2 separate regions of the Homo sapiens genome follow, and region 2 is linked to region 1. A link means that fine-mapping ties the variant in region 1 to the expression of a gene that starts in the linked region. Tissue or cell type: whole blood. Region 1 holds a variant in brackets; the other region holds the start of a gene. All regions are shown on one strand. Distances are from middle to middle.

The links. PIP is the estimated chance that this variant, and not a neighbour inherited with it, causes the effect.
Region 2: FTH1 starts here. The variant in region 1 is fine-mapped to the expression of FTH1 in whole blood (TOPMed, PIP 0.93).

What each region holds. Positions count from the first base shown.
Region 1 is chr11:62,012,349-62,020,450 of GRCh38, reverse strand. It overlaps the pseudogene RPS2P37. Among named protein-coding and RNA genes, the nearest start is that of FTH1, 49 kb to the right of the region's middle. RefSeq lists an enhancer at 6,530-7,030. The variant G/T (reference allele first, on the strand shown) is at 3,393.
Region 2 is chr11:61,963,399-61,971,494 of GRCh38, reverse strand. It overlaps FTH1 (ferritin heavy chain 1), which reads left to right and starts at 3,861. Exons shown (of 4, transcript NM_002032.3): 1 at 3,861-4,183; 2 at 5,980-6,126; 3 at 6,383-6,508; 4 at 6,604-7,210. The coding sequence starts at 4,070. The coding sequence ends at 6,768. BEST1 (bestrophin 1) reads right to left here. Exons shown (of 11, transcript NM_004183.4): 11 at 7,034-7,391. The coding sequence ends at 7,373. It overlaps LOC399900 (a long non-coding RNA gene), which reads right to left and starts at 4,201. Exons shown (of 1, transcript NR_187560.1): 1 at 2,616-4,201. RefSeq lists enhancers at 2,755-2,804, 2,925-2,994, 5,626-5,855 and silencers at 3,515-3,864, 4,135-4,334.

The DNA of each region.
Region 1 (8,102 bases):
TGCTGGGATTACAGGTGTGAGCCACCGCACCCAGCCATGCTTATGAATTCTAATAAGTCACAATTACTAACATGGAGAGAGCACTTTCTATGTGCCAGGCACTATTCTAAGCACTTAGCATGTATTTCACTCATTTAATATCCACAACTCTATGAGGTGGGTAATATTATTGTACTCATTTCGTGGAGTATAATATAGAGGCTAAGGTTCTCACCATTAGTAAGTAACAGAGTAGGGATATAAACCCAGGCTGCCCAAGCACAGAGACTGCACTTTAACCAGGGTGTCCTACTGTCCCTTGTCACTCTGGCCCAGATAAAATATGGCTTTCAGAAACTGTGAAATACAGGTGCAGTGGCTCACGTCTGTAATCCCAGCACTTTGGGAGACTAAGGCAAGTGGATGACTTGAGGTCAGGAGTTCAAGACCAGCCTGGCCAACATGGCAAAACTCTGTCTCTACTAAAAATACAAAAATTAGCCAGGCGTGGTGGCATGTGCCTGTAATCCCAGCTACTTGGGAGGCTGAGGCAGGAGTCTCACTTGAATCCAGGAGGCGGAGGTTGCAGTGAGCCAAGATTGCACCACTGTACTCCAGCCTGGGTGACAGGGTGAGACTCTGTCTCAGAAAGAAAAAAAAAACAGTGAAATACAGACAACTAAAGTAGGCTCTGACCATTTTATTTTTAACCAGGACACTCCAAAGTCCAGAATTGCCTTGGCGAACACCTGCAGTGGTCTCAGTGGCCTGGCGACTGCACATCCCTGCTGGAGTCAAAGTCCCTGAACATGTCACTTGTTTAAGAAAGCCCACTAATTCATTAAGTCAAAAGTCTTCATTAAGTGACTATTTGGATAGCCATAGAGCCCTATTTCTTGGCCCAGCCAGATGGCAGGGTGCTTGTCACTGTGTTTGGCAGGAGTTCTCAGTCCCCTTTGGGTAACCCAGTCCTGGGGGCTGAAAGCATGACTGCTTCCCAGGAGACTGTGCTGGCTTTGGGGCCTTTGTTCTTGGCCACAGGCCCCATTATTCTCAGATGCTTTTCTTTCTGCTTGATCATCTTCTTTTGACCTCATCTTGGTTACTGTTCATTACCCTCATGTTTCCCCTCACACTTCCCTTTTGTCTCTAGCTTTCATCTCTTCTCCTCTCTTACCTCTTTCTCAGGTTTGAATAACATTGTGTCAATCTGCCCTTTCTTCCCCCTTCTCTTTTCTCTGACCTTGAATCCCAAGGCCATATTGGAACTGGAGCTAGGTCTATGCAATATCACTTCTCCTTCCTTTCTAGTCCCATGTCCCTCCCCCTCCAGGAAGCTCCTGCTTACCAACACTCCTGACATGGCTAGTACTTTTTTTTTTTTTTTTTTTTGAGACAGAATCTCACTACAGTGGCAAGATCTCAGCTCACTGCAACCTCCGCCTCCCAAGTTCAAGCGATTCTCCTGCCTCAGGTTCCTGAGTAGTTGGGATTACAAGCAGGCGCCACCATGCCTGGCTAATTTTTGTGTTTTTAGTAGAGATGGGGTTTCATCATGTTGGCCAGGCTGGTCTCGAACTCCTGACCTCAGGTGATCCACCTGCCTCGGCCTCCCAAAGTGCTGGGATTACAGGTGTGAGCCACCGCGCCCGGCCGCTAGTACATTTTTTATTCGTGTTTCTGTCTCTCTAGGAAGACTCTTTGCTCCTTAAAGACAAAGGACTACATTTTCAGGGTTTAGAATCGACGTGGGCAGATGGGAAATAAGTTTGGGGCTGTAAGTGAATGAATCAGTTAGACATGCCTTCTCAGATTCCTCCTGCTACAATCACTTGCTGCCTGTCCTGTGGCTGGCTGGGTGCATGCTGTAGTTTCTCCTAATAAACTGTAAGCTTCTAAGAAGAGTAGGGCATGGCATTGCCAAAAGGACATAGTCTGTCCCCTCCAGAACCCAGCACTATTGCAGAGCAAGTGCCCAGCCAACAGCTGCTGAATTGGCTTGGAGGTCAGAAGCCACTGTGACCTCTAGGCAGCAGAACAAGGAACTTGAGGGGATAGGGTGAGGGATTAGAACCCTTGGGTGTCTAGCCGGGCGTGGTGGCTCATGCATGTAATCCTAGCTACTTGGGAGGCTAAGGCAGGAGAATTGCTTGAACCTGGGAGGTGGAGGTTGTGGTTAGCCGAGATCGCACTGAGCCGAGATCGCACTGAGCCGAGATCGCCATTGCACTCCAGCCTGGGCAACAAGAGCAACAAGAGCGAAACTCCGTCTCAAAAAAAAACAAAAAAACAAAAAAAACCTCGGGTGTCAACCTTCTGGAAAATCAGCCTTTTAATTGGCAAGTCCCAGAAGAGGAAGCCTAGGCAGTTAGACCCCAGGCCACGGTGATAGGGTGCTGATACCATGCAGGGCAGGGCTCTTGGTGCCTCGAGGCTTTTGCATCTTTACTTCCTGCTGAAGTTAGAGAGAGCTGACTGGACTTAGTACAAGCATAGGAGTGGGGATCCAGGACTCAGGAAGGCCAGCTCTGCCATCCTGGGTCAAAGAGATGTCCTCCCTGGACGTCTGGCTCCCGCTTTAAGAAATCATATCAGCCAGTCATGATATGGCTCACGCCTATAATCCCAGCTATAATCCCAGCACTTTGGGAGGCCGAGGTGGGAGGATCACTTGAGCCCGGGAATTCGAGACCAGGCACTGCAACAAAGTGAGACCCCATTTCTTCAAAAAATAAAATAATTAGCTGAGTGTCATAATGCATGCCTGTAGTCCCAACCGCTTAGGAGGCTGAGGTGGGAGGATCACTTGAGCCCAGGAGATTGAGGCTGCAGTGAACAACAATGATGGCACCACTGCATTCCAGCCTGGGTGACAGAGTGAGAGCCTGTCTCAAAAAAAGAAAAAAAAGCAAAGGAATAATGGCGGCAGTCCACCATCTTGTCTTGCTGCTGTCCGAGACTCAGACATGGCTTCTAAGTTCCTATTAAACGTTTCTTTCTAAGAAACTAGATTGGTCAGCCTCTTTCTTTGGCCTTTCAGCTTCCTTAGACTCTGGGGATAGGTTTGCAAAGGCCTGCCCCCCACAGAGCATGTGGCAAGCCAGCTGGGCCAGGAGCTGAGAGATCAAGAAATGGGTGAAGGGAATGAATCATCCGTCTGGGAAATTGTAGGGTCCAGCCCCACAGGGTCGGTGGGCTTCTCCCTGTGTGTGGCGACGAGAGAGTATAGAAATAAAGACACAAGACAAAAAGATAAAAGAAAAGACAGCTGGGCCCCGGGGACCACTACCACCAATTCACGGAGACCGGTAGTAGCCCTGAATGTCTGGCTGTGCTGTTATTTATTGGATACAAAGCAAAAGGGGCAGGGTAAAGAGTGTGAGTCATCTCCAATGATAGGTAAGGTCACGTGG[G/T]TCACGTGTCCACTGGACAGGGGGCCCTTCCCTGCCTGGCAGCTGAGGCAGAGAGAGAGAGAGGAGACAAAGAGAAAGACAGCTTATGCCATTATTTCTGCATATTAGAGACTTTTAGTACTTTCACTAATTTTCTACTGTTATCTAGAAGGCAGAGCCAGGTGTACAGGATGGAACATGAAGGCAGACTAGGAGCGTGACCACTGAAGCACAGCATCACAGGGAGACGGTTAGGCCTCCAGATAACTGCAGGCAGTCCTGACTGATGTCAGGCCCTCCACAAGAGGTGGAGGAGCAGAGTCTTCTCTAAACTCCCCCAGGGAAAAGGAGACTCCCTTTCCCAGTCTGCTAAGTAGCGGGTGTTGTTCCTTGACACTTTTCGCTACCGCTAGACCACGGTCCGCCTGGCAACGGGTGTCTTCCCAGACGCTGGCATCACCGCTAGACCAAGGAGCCCTTCTGGTGGCCCTGTCTGGACATAACAGAAGGCTCACACTCTTGTCTTCTGTTCACACCTCACTATGTCCCCTCAGCTCCTATCTCTGTATGGCCTGGTTTTTCCTAGGTTATGATTATAGAGCGAGGATTATTATAATATTGGAATAAAGAGTAATTGCTACAAATTAATGATTAATGATAATCATATATAATCATATCTAAGATCTATATCTGGTATAACTATTCTTGTTTTATATTTTATTATACTGGAACAGCTCGTGTCCTCGGTCTCTTGCCTCAGCGCCTGGGTGGCTTGCCACCCACAGGAAATCTCAGGGTGGTCAATCACTTTCTTTCTTTTTCTTTTTTTTTTTAAGACAGGGTTTCACTCTGTTGCCCGGACTGGAATGCAATGGCGCCATCATAGCTCACTGCAGCCTTGCTCTCCTGGGCTCAACTGATCCACCACTTGTACCACAGGTGCTAATTTTTTTAATTTTTTGTAGAGACGGGAATCTCACTATGTTCCCCAGGCTGGTCTTGAGCTCCCAGGCTCAAGGGATCATCCCACCTTGGCCTCTCAACGTGCTGGAATTTCAGACATGAGCCACTGTGCCCGGCTGGTCCGTTGCTTTTATGTGGAGTGGTGTGGTTCACCTTTTATATGCTTGTAGACCACCATGTGACTACGGAGATGCCCTGAAAATGCCAGTGGCTTAGAGTCATTGTTAACTGAGAGCCGTCCATTGCACAGTGATAAGAAAGGGCAGCCAGCAGTCATTTTGAGACTAGTGACCTGAGTTCAGGCAGACCCACATCTGAGCATGGTCCAGCCTCAGGGTCCAGCACTTCCTTTCACTTTCGTTTTAACTATCACAGATGGCAACAACCAAGGGATTATATGTTTATTGTGGTTATTAGGGTTTTTGTTTGTTTGTTTCCAGATGGAGTTTCACTCTTGTAGCCCAGGCTGGAGTGCAATGGCGCCATCTCGGCTCACTGCAACTTCCGCCTCCTGGGTTCAAGCGATTCTCCTGCCTCAGCCACCCCAGTAGCTGGCATTACAGGCACACGCCACCACGCCTGGCTAATTTTGTATTTTTAGTAGAGACGGGGTTTCTCCATGTTGGTCAGACTGGTTTTCAACTCCCGACCTCAGGTGATCCACCCTCCTCAGCCTCCCAAAGTGCTGGGATTATAGGTGTGAGCCACCACGCCCAGCCGTGCTTGTTAGATTTATAAACCAAAAATAAAATCTTAAGCCCCCAACCAACTGAATAGACCCTCTTGGCCAAGGTGACCCCAGAAAAACCTGAAAACCTGAATTCCTGACCAGGACAGGAAGGAAGGCCAGACATGCCTCATAGACCCTCTCCCTGTGGAGTTCAGTGAAAAATTATGCCAGGGCAACAGATATATCTCTGAGACCTGTGGTTACCAAGAAGGTAGCCAATGTCAGGGAAGGCAAAACCAACTAACTACTAACACCAGAGAGCACAGTGTGAAGCACTGTTCCATTATGTAGATCATCAAATCTACAAACCCGCACTCTGTAGATTTGTGTCATCAGCTCCCTGAGGAACCTTCACTAAAATGGATTGTGAGAGTATCTATTGGAAGCAATATCTTTGGTTTTAAATGCTGTACAGTGGAAAAAACATGTTTGTGTTACTGGAAAGGGGTCCCAATCCAGACCCCTAGAAAGGGTTCTTGGACCGTGCCAGTCCATAGAGTATATTGAAAACAAGTTTATTAAGAAAGTAAAGGATTAAAGAATGGCTACTCTATAGACAGAGAAGCAGCTTGGGCTGCTCGACTGATAATACTTATAGTTAATTATTTTTACTCTGTCACCCAGGCTGGAGTGCAATGGCTTGATCTCAGCTCACTGTAACCTCCGCTTCCCGGGTTCAAGCGATTCTCCTGCCTCAGCCTCCCGAGTAGCTGGGACTACAGACGTGTGCCACCACGCCCGGCTCATTTTTGTATTTTTAGTAGAGATGGGGTTTTACCGTGTTAGCCAGGATGGTATCGATCTCCTGACCTCGTGATCTGCTTGCCTCGGCCTCCCAAAGTGCTGGGATTACGGGCCTGAGCCACCACACCCGGCCTATTACTTCTTTTCCGGGAGTTTTCCGGGAAAGAGGTGGACAATTTCCAGCACTGAGGGTTCTTCCCCTTTTAAGACAGTATAGGGTATACTTTAAGACAGTGTAGGTATAGTATAACTTCCTGATATTGCCATGGCATTTGTAAACTGTCATGGCGTTGGTGGGATGTCTTTTAGCCTGCTAATGATTATAATTAGCGTATAATGAGCTGCGAGGATGACCAGAGGTCACTTTGTTGCCATCTTGGTTATGTTGGGATTTGGCTGGCTTCTTTACTACAACCCATTTTATCAGCAAGGTCTGTGTGACCTGTATCTTGTGCTGACGTCCTATCTCATCCTGTGACTTAGAATGGCTAACTTCCTGGGAATGCAGCCCAGTAGGTCTCAGCCTTATTTTACCCAGCCCCTATTCAAGATGGAGTTGCTCTGGTTCGAACTCCTCAGCCTCCTGAGTAGCTGGGACCACAAGCGCATGCCACCACGCCTGGCTAATTTTCTTTGTATTTCTTGTAGAGCCAGACTAGTCTCAAACTCCTGTGCTCAAGCCATCCGCTTGCCTCAGCCTCCCAAAGTGATGGGATTACAGCCATGGGCCACCACACTGGGCCTTGTTATTGTTATTGAGAGCATCCACCCAGGGAAGAGGCATGAGCTTTCTTCCTGGTTCATCTCCAGGAGCAGGGAAAAGAGAGAATTTATAGCCCCAGGGCCCTGTGGGCAGATTCTTTCTTGGCTCACTCTACAGAAGGTTCCAGGAAAGCTGGCGGGCGGGGTGCACACTGGGCATTTCCCTGCAGCTCAGCCTCCCAGGGAGCCAGGGAAGACTCCTGAGAAAAGCCTTTCCAGCGTGCAGGACTACCAGCGCTCCGGAATCCCTCCTGCGGTGCCAAGCCTGGCCTCCATGCTGACTGCCCCATCAGCGGAAAGCAGGAAGCAATGGGGTGATGGGGGACTTGGGGGAGTATTTGGCAGGTGGGGAGGAAGGGGTCAGCTGGCAGCAAAGCCACGGTCCTTGGAACTTGGATCCTTTCCTTACTCTGCATTGCTCACAGCAGAATCTTACTACCCCCCCCATCCCCACCCCCACTGGACCTAGCCCTCAGGAAGCCACATGCCTGGAGGACTCTCCTGTTAGATTGGATGCTTGCAGACTGGGCACTTGCTGACTCCTGGCTGTGACACAAAGCCCTCTATTGCTCCCCCTGGGTCCCTCACCTGCCAGGATTTACTCACGTTTCTGAGAAGAAGCTCAGAGGCCAGGGGACCTGGGGCAGGAGGCTCCCTGTGAACACAGAGAGTCCTATTCACGGATGAGGGCTCAGAGTCCTTGCCCTAAGGGAGTTGGTTGGGGCACTGGGACACACAGGCAGTTCGTGGCAGAGCAGGGACTGGAGCCAGGTCTGTGATCTGAGTCACCACCCATGGCTACTGCTGTCTTCTTCCCTGCCCACCAGTGCCCATCAGTGTTAGGGAGAACTCCCTGGTTCAGGAGAGGCATCTTGTGACTCCTCATGCAGCCAAGGCCTGGGACCTGGGGCCAGGGAAGATCCTCAGGCTCTGTCATGGAAGAGCGAGTATTGGCCTTACCCCAAGACTTCTCTGCCGGAAACTCCACTCCTCATCCCCAGCTCAACCCCCAGGCAGAGGGACTTTTCTCCTCCTCCACCTGAATCTCCAGTTCCAAGAAACAAGAAGCTGGCTCCAAAGGAAGACCTCCCCTTTTTCGATGCCCTGTTTATCTCTAAAGTGGACATGATTGATGGCACAGGAATGCATTCAGCTGCAAGTAACAGAAAACATGACCAACAATGTGGGAGAGACATAGATGTTTACTTTGCTCATGTAAGAAGATGACAGAGCTTCTTCTCCAAGAAAACACCAAATGGCAGATGACACAGTGCAGTGGGAGGCCCAGAGGCCCTGGGATGAGGAACAGTGGCAGCTTCTGCAGAGGCTTCGGCACTGGCATCTGGGGCTGAGGTCACGGCCAGGGTTGGAGCCAGGGGCATGAGAGCTCCAAGGCTATGGAGCTCTCAGAGGCAAGGCTGAGGATAAGGAGTGGATGCCCGTCACCAAGCTGGGCCGTCTGGTCAAGGACATGAAGATCAAGTCCCTGGAGGAGGTCTATCTCTTCTCCCTGCCCCTCAAGGAGTCTGATA
Region 2 (8,096 bases), 49 kb after region 1:
CAGTGGGTCCGAGAGCTTCATGCTGGCTTTGTCCCCCTGGACATCCCGGAAGCCTGGAAACTCAGCACATCTAGTCCAAAACCAAGCAGGCCTTCCCCAAGGGCTTTCCCCGAAACCTTCATTTCCTCCTGTGCTCCTTGGCTCAGGGAATGGCAGCAGCAGCCAGGCCTACCAAATCATAAAGCTGAGAGATCTCTTACACACTGCCCACCCCTGGCCCCCGACTTTCGCCAATCAGTCTGTTCATTTGATCTTCTCCAGATCTGTCAAATCTGTGTTCTATCTTCTCTGCTCACTAATAACTAAGGCTGCTGCCTCCTGACTGGTGCCCAGCCCTCTAGCCTCACTCTCATCCATCCTCCACATTCAATCATGAATCCATCTGTTCATGCAACAGATACTGGGCACCAAGTAACAAGCAATTTGCAAAAAGCTGGGAGTGCAGAGACAAGACAGAAACAATGCCTGCCTTCCAGGAGCTTACCATCTACAGCACCAGCGCAGGCAATCAAAAGGGTCTCATAAGGCCAGGTGCGGTGGGTCATGCCTGTAATCCCAGCACTTTGGGAGGCCGAGGCAGGTGGATCACTTGAGGTCAGGAGTTCGAGACCAGCCTGGCCAACATGGTGAAACCCCGTCTCTATTAAAAACACAAAAATCAGCCAGGTGTGGTGGTAGGCACCTGTAGTCCCAGCTACTTGGGAGGCTGTGGCAGGAGGATCTCTTGAACCCGGGAGGTGGAGGTTGCAGTGAGCCGAGATCAAGCCACTGCACTCCAGCCTGGGCAACAAGGGCAAAACTCCATCTCAAAAAAAAAGGTGTGACACATACATAGTACTTCATTAAACATACAAATATATATTATAGTTCCTAATCTTCATCACTTACATGAGCTACAAATATCATCCCAATTTGTCATCTCTGTTTTAACCTTGTTTACAACATCTTTTGTCTTACAGCTTTTCATTTTTAAATAGGCAAACCTGCCAACTGTACTTTTACGGCTTCTGACAGCCTCAGAAGAACATTCCCTACCCCAAAATTATAAAAATAATCTTGTATATATTCTTCTCAAAACTTTATACTTTTTTTAAGGCTTGGATTTTTAATCTATCTGGAATGTATTTTTAAATACTGAGTGAGTCACTTTTCTCCACATGACTGTCAATTGTTTCAACATAATTTGTTAAACCCATTCTTTCTTCCCTAATGTGACACAACAGTTTAGCATATACCAAGTTCTCATAATAGGGGGGCAGGACTATTTTGTTGCATTAATCTAGTCATCTCTTCCTGTGCCAGTACCATACTGCTTATAGCACTTTACTGTACCTTTATTATAGCACCAAATGCAAATCTATCAACACACTGACTCCTCCAAATGAACTTTAGAATCATTTTGTGAAGTTTCAAAAAAAAAAAAAATACTGTCCCAGAGACAGTAATGGCTGAGGAAAAACAAAAACAAAAAACTGCCTCTTATGGAAATTGCAGTGAATTTATGCTTATTTGGGGAAACTGACATCTTTACAGAATGAAGATTGACCGACCATTTGGGAATATGGTACCTCTTCATTTATGCTAGGCTTTTTGAATTTTTTGTCCAGCAGTAAGCATTTATAGTTTTTTCTATATATTTCTTGTTAACTTTATTCCAAGGTACTTTAAGCTTTTGTTGTCAATGTAAGTGAAAAACATTTTTTTTTCCATTCTTTTTTCCCCATATTTTCTAACTGGTGGTTACTGTTATAAAGGAAAGCTTTGGATCCTATATATGGTGACTTTGCTATACTCTTATCCTAAGAGATTCCCAGTGTAAGGTTTCTAAAAACAAAGCTAATGAGGTGTCTCTATGCTGTCTCTAGGATCAAGTTTAACCTCTTTTTATGGAACACAACCCTGCCCGATCTTGCCCCTATTCTCCACCCTAACCAGCATCCCCCAACATAAACTGTACTTTCCAGGCCAACATTCTTTCTTTCTTTCTTTTTTTTTTTTTTTTTTGAGACGGAGTTTTGTTTTGTCTTCCAGGCTGGAGTGCAAAGGCGCGATCTCGGCTCACTGCAACCTCCGCCTCCCAGGTTCAAGCGATTCTCCTGCCTCAGCCTCCAGAATAGCTAGGATTACAGGCGCATGCCACCACGCCCGGCTAATTTTTGTATTTTCAGTAGAGAAGGGTTTAGCCATGTTAGTTAGCCAGGCTGATCTCCAACTCCGACCTCAAGTGATCCGCCCGCCTCGGCCTCCCAAAATGCTGGGATTACAGGCATGAGCCACCGCGCCCAGCCCCAGGCAACATATTTTCTTAAGGCAGCTTTAACAGGCCATGCATTTCCACATTTCCACACCTTTGCATATGCTGTTCACTCTGCTCCAAATTCCCTTCCCTGTTTCTCTCCCGCACTTCACCTTCCTTTTAACTTTTTCTTCAAACTCAGCTCACGTGTCTTGCTTAGGGAGGGCTTCCCCGACCTCCTCCTATCCCAGACTGGGTAAGGTACTCCTGGTCTAGCAGCATCCTTCTGTTTACCTTATTCTTGTAGCTCTAGCACCACTAAAACGTTTTTCCTGTAAATAACATAGGTGCATTTTTAAATGAAACCGTGAACAAGAAATCACCCTAATTCCGTCGGCAATTTATTTTAGTATTTCAGTAGAGTTGCTTTTTTAAACTAAGGTTTGGAAGTCTAGCTTCCAGCTGCAGGTTTGTGAGCATCCTGAAATTCAGTTCTTCCACCGATGCGTCAAAAGACGCGACAGAACAGTGGACCTCGAAGCCAGGACCTAGGTAAGGGCAGGGCCTAGCTCTAGCTCTGCCACCCATAAATTCACATCCACCCTGTGCCTGGGACTCAGCTTAGCCACACACACCGGCCCCACCCCTCCGGGGTCTCTTTCACCTGTCACCCGCCATTAACCCCGTCAGCTTCTCTCCAATGACACCCCAGGGTTGTCCTACAGGGCCACCGAAGCCTGAAGCTCCTGTGAGTGGGGCCGATAAGAGGCCATTTTGAAAAGTCCTCAGCATGGGCTTCGCCTTTAGATCCACGTCGTTTCTCCTTTCTAACCCGAGATGTGTCCCTTGGGTGCGAAGCGACACCAGCGATTCTCTCGGAGGCCCCGGTGGCTCACCCCCACGACTCCCCGGGGAGGCGGTCCCCATCCCTAGGGAAACCCGGCCCGCCCAGCCTTTGTTGCAGAAACCGCACACGGAGCCATATTTGCTTTCAGCCAAAGGCAGACGTGGTCGGAGGAGTCGGAAGGGCAGGGGCGGACCCGAAACCCGCCGTGCGCCCCACTTCTCCATCGCGCTCCTTCCTGGACTCTGAGGAAGAGAAAATGCGCTCGACCACCTAAGGACCGCGTCTCCACCTTCCACCTTCCCAATCATCTGCAGCTTCCCAATCTGCAGCAAGGTGTCACAAGGGCTTCTCCGCAGCTATGATTTCTAACACCATGCCCCGGGCCAGGAGCCTCAGGGTGCCCGTTCGGGAAAATGGGAGCCGAATCAGGATCACCCCATGCGCCCCCGCACCCTTCCCCCGCCGGTTCCAACGCCCGGGCGCCCCTAGACCGGGGGGGGGGTTCTGAGGTGGACTTCCTGCGCCTCCTCGCAGCTTCCCTCCAACTCCACTAAACGGGCACAGAGACGCCACCGCTGTCCCAGAGGCAGTCGGCTACCGGTCCCCGCTCCCGAGCTCCGCCAGAGCGCGCGAGGGCCTCCAGCGGCCGCCCCTCCCCCACAGCAGGGGCGGGGTCCCGCGCCCACCGGAAGGAGCGGGCTCGGGGCGGGCGGCGCTGATTGGCCGGGGCGGGCCTGACGCCGACGCGGCTATAAGAGACCACAAGCGACCCGCAGGGCCAGACGTTCTTCGCCGAGAGTCGTCGGGGTTTCCTGCTTCAACAGTGCTTGGACGGAACCCGGCGCTCGTTCCCCACCCCGGCCGGCCGCCCATAGCCAGCCCTCCGTCACCTCTTCACCGCACCCTCGGACTGCCCCAAGGCCCCCGCCGCCGCTCCAGCGCCGCGCAGCCACCGCCGCCGCCGCCGCCTCTCCTTAGTCGCCGCCATGACGACCGCGTCCACCTCGCAGGTGCGCCAGAACTACCACCAGGACTCAGAGGCCGCCATCAACCGCCAGATCAACCTGGAGCTCTACGCCTCCTACGTTTACCTGTCCATGGTGAGCGCGGGCGGGCCTAAGCGGTGGCGGGGGCCGGGCGCGGTTCCCGGGGCGCGCGCTGGGGCGGGCCGGGGGTGTGGCCACCCGCGGGCTCTCCCGCCTCCCTGCGCCCTTCTGGAAAATGGAGGCTGCTCGAGGTTTCCGAGGACTTCTCTGGCGCAGAAAGTCGGGGCAGCTGGTTCTTCTCGGCTGTACCCTGAGAATGCTCCCTCCTAGGCCAGGGCCGCCTCTGCACACCCTTCTTTTTTAAGGAGACCTTGGTGTCCTGAAATCCTGGGGTTGCAAGACTGCCAGCCTGTGTGATCAATCCTGCGGTTAGGAAGGTGGAGTTTTGCTTTCCCATCTTTTCCTCTGCCTCCGGCATTTGGCCCTAAATGCCAGCGTTTTTTGCTTAGGTATCCAGCTCCCGTCCGCCTGTGTGTGGCGGAGCTGCTGGGTAACGGTGTCGAATAGCAAACCTTGGGGGCTGGCGGGAGGTGGCTTATCTTGTGGGTAGATCCCTCTCGAGCAGCCGTATCCACCTCTCGGCTCTGCTTATCTCTAAGTCCCACTTGCTTTGAAGCATATCTCTAGGAATCGCCCCTTCTGCAGTCACCGAAGTGTCACCTGACCTTGCGCCTAGGGGACCTAATTTATCTTTTATGTATCTTACTGTAAGAGGTGTGGAGTTTGGCCTACTAATTGAACCCCCAGTTCTTGGATAAAGTCCACCGACAGTTACTGGGCAAGAAATTTTTCAGTGATCAGTGGAATCAGTTTTCCCAAATCTTGGTCTTAGGCAGTGTCGTGGGAGTCTTCCTTAGAATTGCCTTGTGATTGTCCAAACTATCCCAAGAATAAATGTGTTCCAAATGGATTTGAAAACAGGCCTGTATTTCTGTGACTGTCACTGCCTTTCACAAACACTTGACTACATCAAATGTCTAAAACTGAAAATCAAATTTTTGTGATATAACTATTATAAAAGTATGTTTACATCAACATACTGTCCACATTTGCCACCTTGCATGGGGGTTTTTAATTTGTGTGTGTGTGTGAGAGACAGAGTCTCGCTCTGTCGCCCAGGCTGGAGTGCAGTGGCGCGATCTCGGCTCACTGCAGCCTCCGCCTCCTGGGTTCAAGTGATTCTCTTACCTCAGGCTCCTGAGTAGCTGGAATTACAGGCGCACGCCACCACGCCCAGCTATTTTTTTTTATTTTTAGTAGAGACGGGGTTTCACCATGTTGACCAGGATGGTCTCGATCTGCTGACCTCGTGATCCGCCTGCCTCGGCCTCCCAAAGTGCTGGGATTACAGGCTGAGCCACCGCACCCAGCAGGGGTTTTTAATTTTATAAATAAATATGTGGTACAGCTGGCAGACTCCTGAGCTCAGTTTTAACCATGCTTTAACATGGTTAATACAGGAGCAGGGAGGAGAAAAGGACTAAGTGCAGGGTCAGTACTCCAGCGCCCTCTCATCAGACAATGAATTCTGACACTGGCTGTAAGTTTTCTGTGCAGTAATACAGATCCTTAAGACATTGCCCCAGGCAATGCCCATAATATCCTAAAGGTTCCTTGAAGTTAAGTTTCAAGGATCAAGTTTCAGTTTTCTATTTTAGAATAGAAACATTACTCTTGGGTTCAATCCAGTAGCTCATCTGCCCCCCAGTCTCCTTAGGCACTGATTCCTTCATGCTGTGCTTTGAGAAAGGAAGCCTAGGCTGACGAGACCATCTTGCCTCCCTGTAGATCGTCACAGCTACCTGTCTCTGGGGATCCCTAGTATAACACATTCAGTGTTCCCCTTTCAGTCTTACTACTTTGACCGCGATGATGTGGCTTTGAAGAACTTTGCCAAATACTTTCTTCACCAATCTCATGAGGAGAGGGAACATGCTGAGAAACTGATGAAGCTGCAGAACCAACGAGGTGGCCGAATCTTCCTTCAGGATATCAAGGTGAACAAAAGATCCTAGGGGTGTCATACTTCATCATCTGGCAGTGTTCGGGTATCAGAAATCACTTAAACTAGCAATTGCCCTTATAAAGTGATGATACACTGGGCTTTTGCCTTTTGTGCTTTTTTAGGCTTACCATCTAAACTAAATTAGGCAAATAGTAATGTCCCTTTTGCCAAAACGTGGTGGTTAGAGATGATGGGCTTGCTGACTTCTAGGTTAGTTGGTAGAGATGCATTAACCTATTCTCATTCAGAAACCAGACTGTGATGACTGGGAGAGCGGGCTGAATGCAATGGAGTGTGCATTACATTTGGAAAAAAATGTGAATCAGTCACTACTGGAACTGCACAAACTGGCCACTGACAAAAATGACCCCCATGTGAGTATTGGAACCCCAGGAAATAAATGGAGGAAATCATTTGCCTTAGGGATTGGGAAAGCTGCCCACTAACTGTCTTCCCCATTGTTTTGCAGTTGTGTGACTTCATTGAGACACATTACCTGAATGAGCAGGTGAAAGCCATCAAAGAATTGGGTGACCACGTGACCAACTTGCGCAAGATGGGAGCGCCCGAATCTGGCTTGGCGGAATATCTCTTTGACAAGCACACCCTGGGAGACAGTGATAATGAAAGCTAAGCCTCGGGCTAATTTCCCCATAGCCGTGGGGTGACTTCCCTGGTCACCAAGGCAGTGCATGCATGTTGGGGTTTCCTTTACCTTTTCTATAAGTTGTACCAAAACATCCACTTAAGTTCTTTGATTTGTACCATTCCTTCAAATAAAGAAATTTGGTACCCAGGTGTTGTCTTTGAGGTCTTGGGATGAATCAGAAATCTATCCAGGCTATCTTCCAGATTCCTTAAGTGCCGTTGTTCAGTTCTAATCACACTAATCAAAAAGAAACGAGTATTTGTATTTATTAAACTCATTAGTTTGGGCAGTATACTAAGGTGTGGCTGTCTTGGATTCAGATAGAACTAAGGGTTCCCGACTCTGAATCCAGAGTCTGAGTTAAATGTTTCCAATGGTTCAGTCTAGCTTTCACAGTTTTTATGAATAAAAGGCATTAAAGGCTGAAGTAGTCTGGGATTTTTATCTATTAAGCTAACCATTTGATTCAGGCTGTTGTAGGACATGTTCTTCAGTGTGGACAGCTGTATGGCTGTGACTGGATCAGTGTCCTGCTGGTGTACACACAGGTGAGGACCTGGCTGGCGAAGCATCCCCATTAGGAAGCAGGTTAGGAATGTGCTTCATCCCTAGTGAGAATGAAAGTATTAACAGCATAAGTATGGAAGGTCCCTTCATTTCAAATACCAAAATGTTGCAGTAGGAGGGCAAAGGTTGAGACGATCCTTTTTTTTTTTTTTTTGAGACAGTCTCACTCCGTCGCCCAGGCTGGATTGCAGTTGCTCAATCTCACTGCAACCACCACCTCCTGGGTTCAAGCAATTCTCCCCTCAACCTCCTGCGTTGGGACTACAGGCACACCACGACGCCCAGCTGATTTGTATTTTTTTTGGTAGAGATGGGGTTTCATCATGTTGGCCAGGTTGGTCTCAAACTCCTGACCTCCTGTGATCCACTTGCCTCCACACCCAGCCCAAGACAAGATTCTTAAATATTAACATCCTTTGCTGAACAGGCCACAGATGTTTGCCAAGTTCCTGTCTAGCCCTAGAAGCAAGACTGAAATTGTTGCCCTTTTAAGTTTTCAATCATAATAGCTGCGTGTTCTGACCGTGAAAGTAACTGCTTGAGAATCCAGAAAAGGGAAGTTACACTTCCTCCCACGTGATTGGGGCTGAAGTGGGGTGTTTATAATTGGGTGAAAGTGTCCAGGAAATCTGGAATAAAGGGAAATATCTGATTTTGTGACAGCTTTGGGCTGACCCCAAGGAAGCAAGAAGTATTTTGGTGAGGTTCCCAGGCAGTGAGAAAATGACCTAAGGGCGCTGGACACC